3 separate regions of the Homo sapiens genome follow, and regions 2 and 3 are each reported to be linked to region 1. The links are microRNA targets in miRTarBase. Many come from high-throughput screens and were not tested one by one. Region 1 holds a microRNA gene; each other region holds the end of a gene's coding sequence.

Region 1 (4,148 bases):
TCTCTGAGATCAGCTATGGCTTGGGGATTGCTAAGAACAAAATTCAAAGTTGCTTGTTTTTTGTTTTTTTTTTTCTTAAATCCACACTTCTTTGGGGGTTAGCGGGGGTGGGGAGGGAACAGCAACTGCTTAATGAAGTTTCTCACACAGAGGCAAAAAGAGAAAAGCCAAAATATATTCAGTGTATCCAGCAGTTCCATGCTGAATTTTTTTTTTCCTTATTGGTTGAGGGGGGTGTGTAGGAGGGTGGTGGGAAGGATCTGAAAAGAAGCTGTGATTCTTTGCTGAATTAATGATGACTTCTCACTGCAAAATGCTGATTTATAATCTCTTCACCATACTAGACTGTTTCCAGACTCAGAGGGGGGTTAAAGTTTGTTAAATGTATTCATAATTACATGCACAGTTTCAGACGGCTGAATATAAGTAATGCTTGTGCTGTTGCGAATGCTCACCATTAAAGCAGAAATTGTTTCACATTTAGCACTAAATTCTGTCTGATTTTGCACACTTAACAATTCAGTAATTTTAACATTCGGCTTCGTCGCCTCCATTATAGCTCAGTATCTTGGAGAAACAGTCAGTGTTCCGGCCTCGTTAATTCATGTAAAACACCCTATTTGTAGAAGTATCATTAAAGGCTAATTTGATGAGATATCCTTATTTAGCAAAGCAAATAGGATTTGACAGTCAGCTCCGGGTGGCGATTTAGCAAAGCACAAACACAATTCACAACGTGACAATTTCCCATCCACGCGCCTCGCTGGAATTGTGGACTCCTGAAAATTGTGCTGTTTCATCGTGTCCCATACTAAAGAGAAAGAACTCTGGAAGTAAAGAACTGTTTTTGCCAAGGCAGCACAAATGTCATCTGTGTGTACATGTGCCATGTCTTTCAAATCCTAAATCTTGTATCAAGAACGCTGTGTTCAAAGGTTTTTTCCAGGTACAGCTCACTTTTCTATTCCCTGCTATGTAGACTTAATTTAAATCTAGACTTGCAAATAACTTAGGATGTGTGAAAGTCTATATAGGTTACAACTATATAGGGTGTGTGTGTGTGTGTGTGTACACACAACTGAAGGTTAATGTTCTGCGACGGGGATTTATACACACTACCCTTGCTTTAGAGACTTCCCCTGAACGTATTATCCAGCCTTCTATAAAACGCCTGGCTGGGTGCAGTGGCTCATGCCTGTAATCCCAGCACTTTGGGAGGCTGAGGTGGGCGGATCACGAGGTCAGGAGATCGAGACCATCCTGGCTAACACGGTGAAACCCCGTCTCTACTAAAAATACAAAAAAATTAGCCGGGCGTGGTGGCGGGCGCCTGTAATCCCAGCTACTCGGGAGGCTGAGGCAGGAGAATCGCCTGAACCCGGGAAGCAGAGGTTGCAGTGAGCCAAGATCGCGCCACTGCACTCCAGCCTGGTCAGAGCCTGGACAGAGCGAGATTCTGTCCCCAAAAAACAAACAAACAAACAAACAAAACAAAACAGAACAAAAAGAACGCCTTCAACAGCAAAGAGTTGCAAAGAAATGTTGCAATTCCAGGTGGAAGCAAACAGCTGGTTTCTCCTAATTTAGCAAACGTAAAGACAAATCTAATGTCGTTACAATTCATCATTTCAGGAGCGCCTTATTTGGGGGCTTCAAACACTTTGCCACAATTGACATCCTACTAATTCCTTTCCAATCCAATACTGTCCCTTAAACCACTGTGGGGGTGGTCAGGGGGAATGTACTTTCTCCTCCTTGTATCGTTTTTCGGCCTCCCAAGGAGAGAAGCCCTTGGAAAACACAGTAGGTTCGGCAAACTGAGAACACACACTTATAAGAATACCGCCCTCGAAGGGACCTTTTAGTTTTATGGAAAGTAGCAAACCTCCCCCTCTTTCCCCGCCCCCCCGCCAGCCGGGTTTTGGACGCGCTCCCTGGGGGTGGTAGCTCTCTGCCCTCACCCTCCCGAGACTGCCGGGGCCTGAGTCCCTCGCTGTCCAGAATGACCCCAAAAGCGGGACTTTGAGGGCCAGTTGGATAAAACATAAACTCATCTCGCCCTCAAAACCCCGATTCTGAGACCACAGCCTCCAAAAGCCTCTTTTCCCAAGAAGTGAGTCCCCATTCACGGCTGACAGCACCGGGGCAGGCCGCCTTTGAGGCAAGAGTTTGGAGAACCGGGATCACTGAAGGAATCGTTACTGGGTGTTCCCTCAGGGCGGCGGTTCATCTCACCAAAATGCCAGGGGGTCGCTGTGGGAGGAGGGGACATTTGCCACACCATGGCTGAGGGCAAGAGGATCGCTTGATCCCGGGGTGTCTCTTCCCTCCCGGAGCAATCACCAATCTCGCCCAGCAAACAGGCCTAAAAGCTTCCCGGACAACACGAGGGGTGCCCCAAACGTCCCTTAGCAGCGGATAAATCGGGTGTCCGAGGTGCCTCGTACAGTTCCCCCCACCCCATCTCCAGCTAAATAAAGTTTGGTTATTTGTGTCCTTAATCGTCTCTCATTAAAGTCAAATTTGCTGCGCGCCCAAGTTGGGGGAAATGATTTCCATTTTAATAGCTTAATTAGCCTCTAGGTTCTGGAAAGGCCACTCCCCCACGCACCTTTTCTCCTCATTTTAACCCCCCTCCCTTTTTCACAACTTCTCCTAAAAATAAATTATAAATATGGATGTGTCCTCAGAGGACATAAGCGGCGCATTCCAACGCTCCGCTTGGTGGGGATTGGAAGCAAAGAGAAACCAGAAACGCCACTCCCCCCACCCCCAAATCAAAATGCCTTTTTCTTTTTTTTTCTAACTTCTTTTTCCTAACTTGGTGTTGTCTCGGGCACAGACACCCCGCTCCGCACCCCGGAACCTAGTTTTTTTGCCCCCGTCCTGCAGAAGCTAAAGCCAACGCGCCAGGGCTGCCTGCTTCTCGGGGGGAGGGAGCTGACAACTTTAGGGGGCGGCGGTAACTCTCTGGGGACGGTGGTTCCCGGCTAGTCCGGGATCCCCGGGGCCCGGCCCCCGCAGGCGCCGCCGCCCATGCCAGCGGGGCTCGGGCGCACGTGGAGCGGCGGGCGCGGCCGGCCTGCTCCGCGCGCGGCATTGAGATCGGGGTCACGCAGCGAGTCAGTTTCCCGAGCGGGCTTTCCGGGGTGGGGGCGGGGACGCGGACGCTCCACCGCCTCGTCAATTTCCAAGCCCAGGCACTAGGGAGGCTGGGGGCGGCCTCGCCCCCTTCCTACCTCCCGGCTTCACACGCCCCTCTGGGGAGCGGGGGAGGGGTCCGAGGGGGAGCCGGGGTGGCGGCAGCGGCGGCAATCGCAGCCCAGACAAGCGTCTCGCGCCGAGTCCCGAGAGAACCGCGCGCTCCCCCGCCGCCACCTCCCCTCTCCCGTTCCCATCCACCCCGCAGACAGCCGCCCCACACCCCTTCGGCCCTGGGGGCTTGGGCACCCACCTGCCGCGATCCCTGCCTTGGCTGGCGGAAGGTGCCAGGCGGGAAGAAGGGGAGCACTCACCGCCGCTGCCGCCTCCGGGGGTGCACGGGCCCCCCCACCCAGGGCTGCGCCTTCCCGGGCTCCGGGCAGGCGTGCGCCGGGCGGGGGGCGCCCCGCGGGCCCTGCAGCCTCCGCCTCGATTGGAGCCCAGCCTTAAATCCTCCACCGTGGAGAAGAAGGGTACTTCCAGAAAAAAAATCCGCCCCTCCCCAGACGAGATCCAAGTGATGGGCGGGGAGCGTAGAAAATCCTTTTCTGCAGAGAGCGCGCAGCCGACGGGGCTGCACCCGGCCTCCACGGTCCGCTGCCGCCACAAAGCCGCGCCCCCGCCCCCCCCAACCCCCCAGCGCCCTATGGCCGGCCCGGGGCGGGGGCTGGGCCGGCCCGGGGTTGGCCGCGCTGGGGAGGCGGCGGCGGCAGCGGCCCAGGCGGCGGGGCGGCTCCTCCCCGGCCAGGCAGAGAGGGCGAGAGCCTGGAAGCCTAGCGCGCCCGCCCGGGTGGGGGTGGGGGTGGGGGTGGGGGTGGGGGTGGGGGCGGGGGCCGGGGTGGGGGGGCGCCTTCCTAGAAACGCTCGCCAAATATAGTCAGCGGATAGGGGCATTCCTAGAAATGCGGCGGCGACGTCAGCCTCGACCCTGGGGGCGGGGGGCAGAG
Region 2 (4,000 bases), not on the chromosome of region 1:
GAGCTCCCAGAGGTCAGCCGCCGAGAACTGGACCTGCTGATCGCAGAGGAAGAAGAAGCTATCTTGTTAGAAAGTAGGTGTCTCCGGCAGCGTAGGGCCCGCCTGGAGCTGGATAGTCAGACCCCTGGCGTGGGCATTCTGGGACTGGGCAATGCTCCCATTTCTCTTTTTCTGTCCTCTGAACTCTGATTCTCTCTCCACAGTCCCGCGGCTCCCACCTCCAGCTCCTGCAGAGTAAGGGCAAGAACTCCTAGACCAGGTAGGGTGTCAGTGCTGGGAAGGGTCTCCTCATTTCTCTTGCCCATTTCCCCTCAGGGTGGAAGGAATAGGAGAGGCACTGGGTCCTGAGGAGCTGAGGCTGACAGGCTGGGAACCTGGGGCCCTACTCATGGGTGAGTGCCCACCATGCCCCAGGGGCTTTTCTGGGAGTACCTGGATACTGCTGCAGACAAGGGCTTTATATCCCAACTTGCTAAAGGGAGGACCCTGCAGTTTCTTGCCCTGGCATCTGCAAGGGGTAAGGGGCTTATGGGACAGAGCCCCTTGGGTGTTGTTGCAGAGGTGACCCCCCCGGAGGAGCTGCGTCTGCCAGCCCCACCCAGCCCAGAGGTGAGTAGCCTCCCTTCTAATCCTCCTCCTCCTCCTCTTTGCCCTCCCCCACAAGGACTGCCTCCCCAAGCCCAGGGCCACTGCTAGCTTACAGGGGTCCTTAATGCAGATGATAAAAGATGCCCCTTTCTACGCCCCATCGTATCTGGCCTACGCTTCCCAGATGGGTACCCTTATGCAAGGTATGAGCTGCTCAAGTGCATGGAGACCCCGCACAAGCCCTCTCCAGGTTCCTCTAGGGGCGGGTGTGGGGTCCTGTTAGCAGTCCACCAGAATGACAGGAAAAGGAGTAATGGGCAGCCTTGCCCCTACCTGCCCTCCCCACTCAACAGAGGAGGCCCCCAGTCCCCCCACCTCCTCGCCGCCGCCGTCGTCGCCGGTTACTGTTCTGGGACAAGGAGACTCAGATCTCCCCGGAGAAATTCCAGGAACAACTGCAAACCAGAGCCCACTGCTGGGAATGTGTGAGTGCAGCCCAGGCTTTGCCGGGGAAGGGAGGGAGGCAGGGATGACCAGGGGCACATGCAGGCTGAGCCTTCCAAACTCCTCAGGTGGGTGGGGGGAGGATTGGGAACTTGATGAAAAATCTCCTCCATTCTCCAGAAAATGCAGGCGATGTGGGTTTGCACATATACAACTCTTCATGCTCCTTTAGTGACCCACCTGTCATACCCATGGGCACCAGGTTAAAAAGTCCTTCTTTTAGCAATGAGCAGGGCAGGCAGGGTCATGAGCGCAAAAGCTGGGGAAGTCCAGAAGCCCCAGAACAGTGCATTGCAAAGAGGCAAAGGGGCCCTGAGGAGTGGCTGCTTTATAATGGGGCTTCTGACCTTCCCCCACTACACAGCCTATGGTGCAGCCGCCCGAGAGGACCATCAGAGGCCCTGCGGAGTTGTTCAGAACCCCAACTCTCTGTAAGAATGGTGGGGGTTGGGCACGAAGTATCCTCAAAACCAATTCCTCATTCCTGGTGCTCCTCACGCCTCAAACCCCGTGCCTACTACCCTCTTGTCCACAGCTGGCTGGCTACCCCCTGAACTACTGGGTCTCTGGACCCATTGTGCCCAGCCACCCCCAAAAGCCCTCAGGCGAGAGCTGCCTGAGGAGGCAGCCGCTGAGGAGGAAAGGAGAAAGATTGAAGTTCCAAGTGAGATTGAGGTAACTGCACCACCTGTTTACTGCATCGCCCCAGTGCCAGGGTCTGCCTGACCAGCTGGCTGCCCTCTCCTGCTATGAGAGCCAACAGCACAGGCTCACTGGCCTTGTGCCTTCTGAGGCCCAAGTCCCAGATGCTTGGGGTCTTAGTTCTACTTCTCCCATCCCCAGGTCCCGAGGGAGGCCCTGGAGCCCAGTGTTCCCCTTATGGTGTCTTTAGGTAAGCACCTAGAGAAGAGGCGCAGTGGGACCACACCCTAACCACTGTCCCAGGAAACTAGTATCCCAACTGCTGAAGCTGTTTTATGAGTGAAGGCGTGTGTGTGTGACATAAGGAAGCACGGACTGGTCCTCCTCAGCTCTCCCACCTATGTGCTTTTAACAAGTCACCGCACGGCTCTGCCATCTACTTACACCAGGTGGCCACAAGGCCCTAACTGCCACCCAAGCAGACACCCACTAGCGCCTTTCCTCCCCCAACAGAGATCTCCCTAGAGGCAGCTGAAGAGGAGAAGTCCCGCATCAGCCTCATCCCACCAGAAGAACGGTGGTAAGCGGCCAGGCTCCGTGGGAGCCAGGGCCCACAGCCCTTGGCCAGGTGGTGGAAACAGCTGCTGGGATGGGTATGCCCCTTGTCACTGTCACAGCTGCCACCTTCCCTACTCTCTCATGTCCTCCTAGGGCCTGGCCTGAGGTGGAGGCGCCAGAAGCTCCTGCATTGCCCGTGGTGCCTGAACTCCCTGAGGTGCCCATGGAGATGCCTTTGGTGCTGCCCCCAGAGCTCGAGCTGCTCTCACTGGAAGCAGTGCACAGGTACCAGGGAGGTGGCACCTTGATGGGGTGGACCCGGGCTGAAGCCTCTGCTAATGGTTCTTGATCCCTATAGGGCAGTGGCACTGGAGCTGCAGGCTAACAGGGAGCCCGACTTCAGCAGCCTGGTGTCACCTCTCAGCCCCCGCAGGATGGCTGCCCGGGTCTTCTACCTGCTCCTGGGTGAGTGTATGCATGTGTGTGTGTGTATGTGGGGCAGGGACACAGAGACCAGAGGCCCGTACAGGGACTCCCCCGACCTGCCCTCTCCTCGCCTCTTGACCAGTGCTCTCAGCGCAACAGATTCTTCACGTGAAACAAGAAAAGCCATATGGTCGCCTCCTGATCCAGCCGGGGCCCAGATTCCACTGAGGTTAGAGTCCATTTACAAAGCTGCCAGGAAACCGGCCACTTCTAGTAAACCACGTCGTGCCTCACTGGGTCCTGCTTACCTCATTTCTGAATGTGCATTTCCAGCCTTCTTGCTCTCAGAGCTATTGTTCAAGCAGAAAACAAGCTGCTTTTATTACAGTATGATGTCATGACTCATTTGTAACAGATCCAGCCTCAGGGACAGCCCTGTAAGGCAGCAAGTGGGGCTGGCTCCAAATGGGTATGAGTCTCAGAATCTTTGGTAAGGCAGAACTGAACTGGGCTGAGAGGTGGTCTTAAGGCCTGGGCAGGCTCTATTCTCTCTGGACTGGCTGCAGCCTGCAGTCTAGGAGAGGCCCAGTACAGCCTGGAGCTCCTGAGCCTTGTCAACAGGCAGTGAGCCCAGAGCTGCTTGAAAGCTGTCGGTGTGCTGTTTGGCCAGGAACGTCAGGAGCAGCAACAGTGCGGCCTTGGTGTCTGGGTGGAGAGGGAGGGAGAAAGGTCGGGGCTCCTAAAGCCTCGCTGCCCCAGGCTCTCTGAGCCCTGCCACTCCCAGCCTCCCGCAAGCCCCTGCCTATGACTCCTACCCTCACCTGGTGGGATCTTGTTGTCAGCCAGAATGAGGCTGCAGATACGCAGAAGCTCGGGAGCCACATCTATAACCTGTGAGGAAAGAGTGGCTGACTCAGGGCAGCAGCCCCAGACCCCAGGTCTAGGAGGGTGGTCAGGACCAAGGAGTGGCAGAATCTCTTATCAGGGGGGTGGTTGCACCTGGTACTGATTCACAGGCATCCAAGACAACTATGAACATGAGAAGAACCAATGAAACTTGGTGCTAATGATTTTTTTTGGAGGGAATGGGGGATGTGGGACAAGATGATTAAAGTCATAGCCTCAAGACCTAAAGAAACCCAGACACTCAGGAGCTTCACCTACACAACAGTCTCTAAAGGTATAAGACAAGGGTGACACAAACACTCTGACATGACTCCAAACCTAGCTACTTGGTACAGGCAAAATCTCTTCAGAGAGCAGAGCTGATCTGATTGAAATG
Region 3 (4,000 bases), not on the chromosome of region 1:
GTTCTTAGGCTCAACGGCATCGACCTTCCATAGCCAGCTCCTATGGGGCAACGCAGGTTGTTCTTAGGTTCTTATTTTGCTATAATAGCATAATCCTTTACTTCTACCCTGCACTTTGTGATTTACAAAGCACTTTTGCATCCATCACCTCCTCTCATCCTCACAACAGAGGGTGACCCCCACCCAAGATTCAGAAAGAATGAAATTGAAACTTGGAGAGGTGAAGCAACTTGTGCCAGGTGGCACCACTGGTAAGGGGCAAAGCCAGGACTCAAACAGGTCCTCACACCCTCAACCAAACAGGGCACAGGGAAAGAGTCCTTCCTGCAGACCCCAAATTCCTGCATCTGAGCTGGGCTGGCAAGGGGAACTGCCAGCCAGCAAGGCTGGGGGTGGGTTCCTTCTCATCCATCTTCGCAGTGAGCCTGGCCTCCAATGCTGGGCACAGACAGTGTGGTATTGTCTCATGGGTGGGAGGGTATTGTCTTTTCCTCCGAAAGAAAAATAATCAAACTCAGATCATCCAGAGCTCATTAAAAGCCTCTGCAGACATTGTGGCCCCAGCAATTAACTCAAGAACAATTACTCGCCTTTCACCCCAGGGTGAGGAAGGGCTGGACCCCAGCCAGATCCCCTTCTGCACCTGACTCTCCTCCAGCAGCCCCTCGAGGTGGCTTTCTCTATACTCTCAGGCCCAGGCCAGGGGCGGCAGCTGCCCCCCTCACTGCCCCACGCACAAATCCCTGGTTTCAGTCCAAACCGCTACTGTGAGCTCCAGATCTGGGTGGGGCCCGGAGCCTCCTCATTAGCACCAGGTGGGATGGCCTTGCGAAGATAAAGCTCTGTCTGGCCCCAGCCCAGGCTGTAGCCCCGGGCCCTGCCCCAGGCAGCCTGCCCAGGATGCTGTGCCAGTTTCTGACCTTTGCCCACTGCAGCCAGATGGGGCCATCTGTGGAGCTGGCCTTTTCTCCTTAGAATGAGGCAGTGCAGCCCAGTGGAAAGAGACTCAGCCTCTCTGAGCCTGGTTCCTGATTTAAACTTAGGCCATTAACACAGACTCCCCTCAGGGCCATAGTGAGCATTTGAGGGCACAAGGAGAATGAAGTCTCCAACAACCTTAGAACCCTCCCACACCTCTCCTGTTCCCCAGGGAAATGCCAGGGAGAGGGGGTGTGTCCTGGAGCCCAGAGACTTACCTTTAAACCCCTCTTTTCCCATTTACCAGCTGTGCGGCTTTGGGTAATGCCGCCTCCTCTCTCTGAGCCTTAGTCTACCAATCAGGAAAATGGAAATAACTCCAGCTCAGCCTGACTCTCAGTTGGAGCAAGATGACTCACAGGAAATGCTCAACAGACTGAAGTGGCCACGATGACCAGCAGGATGTAAAGGCACTCCCCTCAACTTCCCCACTCCCCTCTCCCTCCTATCCCAGGTCTCCAGGCTGAGACAGAAAAGTGTCCCCAGTCCAGCCCCACCCTGCACTGTGCACACACAAAGGCAGGCTTCATTCCTGACACTCAGGCCTGAGACCTGACAGTCACCTGCCCCACCTGTGTGGGCCCAGACCCCGCCCCGCAGCCACATTCCAGGGGCCCCTGAGGCAGAGGGAAGGTTTCAGCTGTGACAAGGGAGGCTTTCATGGGCAGGGACAAGCGCCTCTGGGCAGTCCCAGCTGGGGGTGCAGCCAGGCCTCTCCCTCCAGCTCCAAGGCTTCCTGAGAAGTTAAGTTGGGGGTGGTGGTTTGTGGGTGCTGGAGGCCAGAACAGGACAGCTAGGGAGGGGGCAGAAGGGGGTCCCAGTCCAGGCTACAGCAGCGGGGCTCTGGGGTTACATGTTCATAACCAACCTTGAAACAGCTCCTCCTTCGGGATTGCCATGGCCGTGATGGGGTCTCCAGCCTCCTTAGCAGGGTGCTGAGTACATTTGGCAGCATGCGGGCGTGGAACTAGTGTCCCTCACTTGCCCCCATCACTCATAGGGTTGGGCCTGCAGCCCTCACCTCTCCACCAGGAAGAAGTGGGACTTCTTTTGGGGCCTCTTCCTTACCTTGAATTGGCCTCAGTTCTTGGCAGCTGAGATGTAAACCACAGGAGCAGGGCCATACCTACCCAAGGGCAGAGTTGTACCAGGAAGCTGGGACTTCGTTCTTTTGCTGGCCCAGGGCAGGCCCCAGGCAAGCCAGGGTTGGGGTCTCTGTGGGAGGTCTGGGTCACTGCTGGGTCCCATTCTGGGCTCTGGGCCCAGGTATGGGCTGGTGGGCGTTAAAGGGCTTATGCAGGGCTGCCCCAAAAATGGGTGAATGTGTTAGTGCATGCACACACACAACACACACTGACAGGTACAGCCTCCCCAGCCTTGCTCCAAGCGGGATGCCTGGCCCCAAACCCCCAGTTTCAGTGAGGTGGAGAAATGTGTCGGGAGGAACTGCCCCTAGGGATCCCCGGCCTGAGCCTTCATAGGGCACAAGACTGGAATGTCAGCAAGACCGGCACAAGTGGCGTCAACTCCAGGAGACCACCTGGCAGGGGCTGGCACCATGGGCTAAGAATCAGGCAACTTAGGTTCTAGTCCTGGCTCTACCATGTAGTTGCTGTGTGGCCTTGGACAAGTTACTGAACCTCTCTGAGCCTATTTCCTGATCTATAACATGCAGCTCATACTACCTTTTAGGGCTGTTTTTAATTCAATGGCACATAGTAGGTGTTCAATAAACATTAATTTCACACAGATACCTCAACGCCCTGGGGAGTAGAGTAGAAAGAAAACTAAATCTAGAAGCAAAAACAATTTCAAATCCCACCTTTGCCATGCATTAGAGCAGTTACATATAGAAAAAAACACTTCACCTCTCTGAGCCTTAGTTTACTTTTGTAAAATGGAAGCAATGCTTATTTCATGAGGTTATTTTAAGGAACGGGTTAAATAAATGAAGACTTCTGTAAACAGGAATTACCATTACAGGCAAAGTATGTGAGTACCCTCCCCTCCCTTTCCTGGGACAGAGTGAACTTTGGTTCAAATAAAACCTAAACAGGGCCAAGGCAGGACCCATCTCTCCATGGGCTCAAATAACAAACCGAACGACCTATTCTCTCCATGGGCTGAAATAATAAACCAAACGTCCTTCCTCCCTTGGACCATAAATTTTTATTGGCAGGTCAGGAGAAGAGCCGGGGGTAAGGGTCCCTTCCTTCCCATCCCTCTACCCAGAAGACACCCTCCAAAGGACAGCAGAAGCCCCAGAGCCTGCTGCCTCAGAGGACCTTGGAGGCAGACAAATTGTTGTAGTGATCTTCCTGTCCCTCGAGCAGGCTGCGGTAGGTGGCAATCTCCTGCTCCAGCCGCGACTTGATGTCCATGAGCCGCTGGTACTCCTGATTCTGCCGCTCACTATCAGCTCGCACATCGCCCAGCTGGGCTTCAATACCGCTGATCAGCGCCTGGATATGCGCCAGCTGGGCTCCAAAGCGCGCCTCCGTTTCTGCCAGTGTGTCTTCCAAGGCAGCTTTCTGAGGATAGGGAGAGGGGGTTGTGACTCAGCAGAGCCTGGTTCCCGGAGAGGGCATGGGCACAGCCACCGGCCAGGCTGCCCTAGGCTGCAAGGGTATAAGTGTGAATTGCACAGGGAAGCGGCGGCGGTGGGGGGACACATACCATGCTCAGCTGTGACTGCAGCTCAATCTCAAGACCCTGAAGGGTGCGCCGCAGGTCAGTAACCTCGGACCTGCTCATCTGGAGCTGCTCCGTGTGGCCAGCGACCTCCCGGTTCAATTCTTCAGTCTGCAGAGAGAGGAAGAAGAGGGAATAAGCATTGAGTCAGACCTTCGCGTAGGGAACACAAAGCCCTCCCCTTCCTAACCCCCAAAGGGTGCCTGCTTCCCTCTACCTACCCGGCTGGTGAACCAGGCTTCAGCATCCTTCCGGTTCTGCTCGGCCATGACCTCATATTGGCTTCGCATGTCACTCAGGATCTTGGCGAGATCGGTGCCCGGAGCGGAAT

What was found. The annotated mature microRNA hsa-miR-193b-3p reads AACUGGCCCUCAAAGUCCCGCU and lies in region 1 at 2,014-2,035, opposite strand. An mRNA with a match to its seed (bases 2 to 7 or 8) in the 3' UTR can be bound and repressed. Matches are read on the target gene's strand: a 7mer-m8 pairs with bases 2 to 8, a 7mer-A1 pairs with bases 2 to 7 and ends in A, and an 8mer does both.
Region 2: miRTarBase lists IPO4 as a target of hsa-miR-193b-3p. The part of its 3' UTR that is shown has no 7-base or 8-base seed match.
Region 3: miRTarBase lists KRT19 as a target of hsa-miR-193b-3p. The part of its 3' UTR that is shown has no 7-base or 8-base seed match.

What each region holds. Positions count from the first base shown.
Region 1 is chr16:14,301,904-14,306,051 of GRCh38, reverse strand. MIR193B (microRNA 193b) reads right to left here and starts at 2,085; the gene lies at 2,003-2,085. The region is part of intron 1 of MIR193BHG (MIR193b-365a host gene); the gene reads right to left. RefSeq lists silencers at 1,945-1,994, 2,948-3,187, 3,093-3,253, 3,538-4,027.
Region 2 is chr14:24,177,150-24,181,149 of GRCh38, forward strand. IPO4 (importin 4) reads right to left here. Exons shown (of 30, transcript NM_024658.4): 29 at 3,540-3,609; 30 at 3,070-3,423. The coding sequence ends at 3,293. It overlaps REC8 (REC8 meiotic recombination protein), which reads left to right. Exons shown (of 19, transcript NM_001048205.2): 8 at 1-73; 9 at 204-234; 10 at 316-392; 11 at 560-609; 12 at 942-1,073; 13 at 1,457-1,523; 14 at 1,628-1,767; 15 at 1,936-1,984; 16 at 2,248-2,314; 17 at 2,446-2,577; 18 at 2,651-2,757; 19 at 2,861-3,105. The coding sequence ends at 2,946. Among named protein-coding and RNA genes, the nearest start is that of REC8, 7.1 kb to the left of the region's middle.
Region 3 is chr17:41,520,489-41,524,488 of GRCh38, forward strand. KRT19 (keratin 19) reads right to left here. Exons shown (of 6, transcript NM_002276.5): 4 at 3,891-4,000; 5 at 3,655-3,780; 6 at 3,129-3,509. The coding sequence ends at 3,255. Among named protein-coding and RNA genes, the nearest start is that of KRT15, 3.6 kb to the left of the region's middle. RefSeq lists an enhancer at 855-2,054.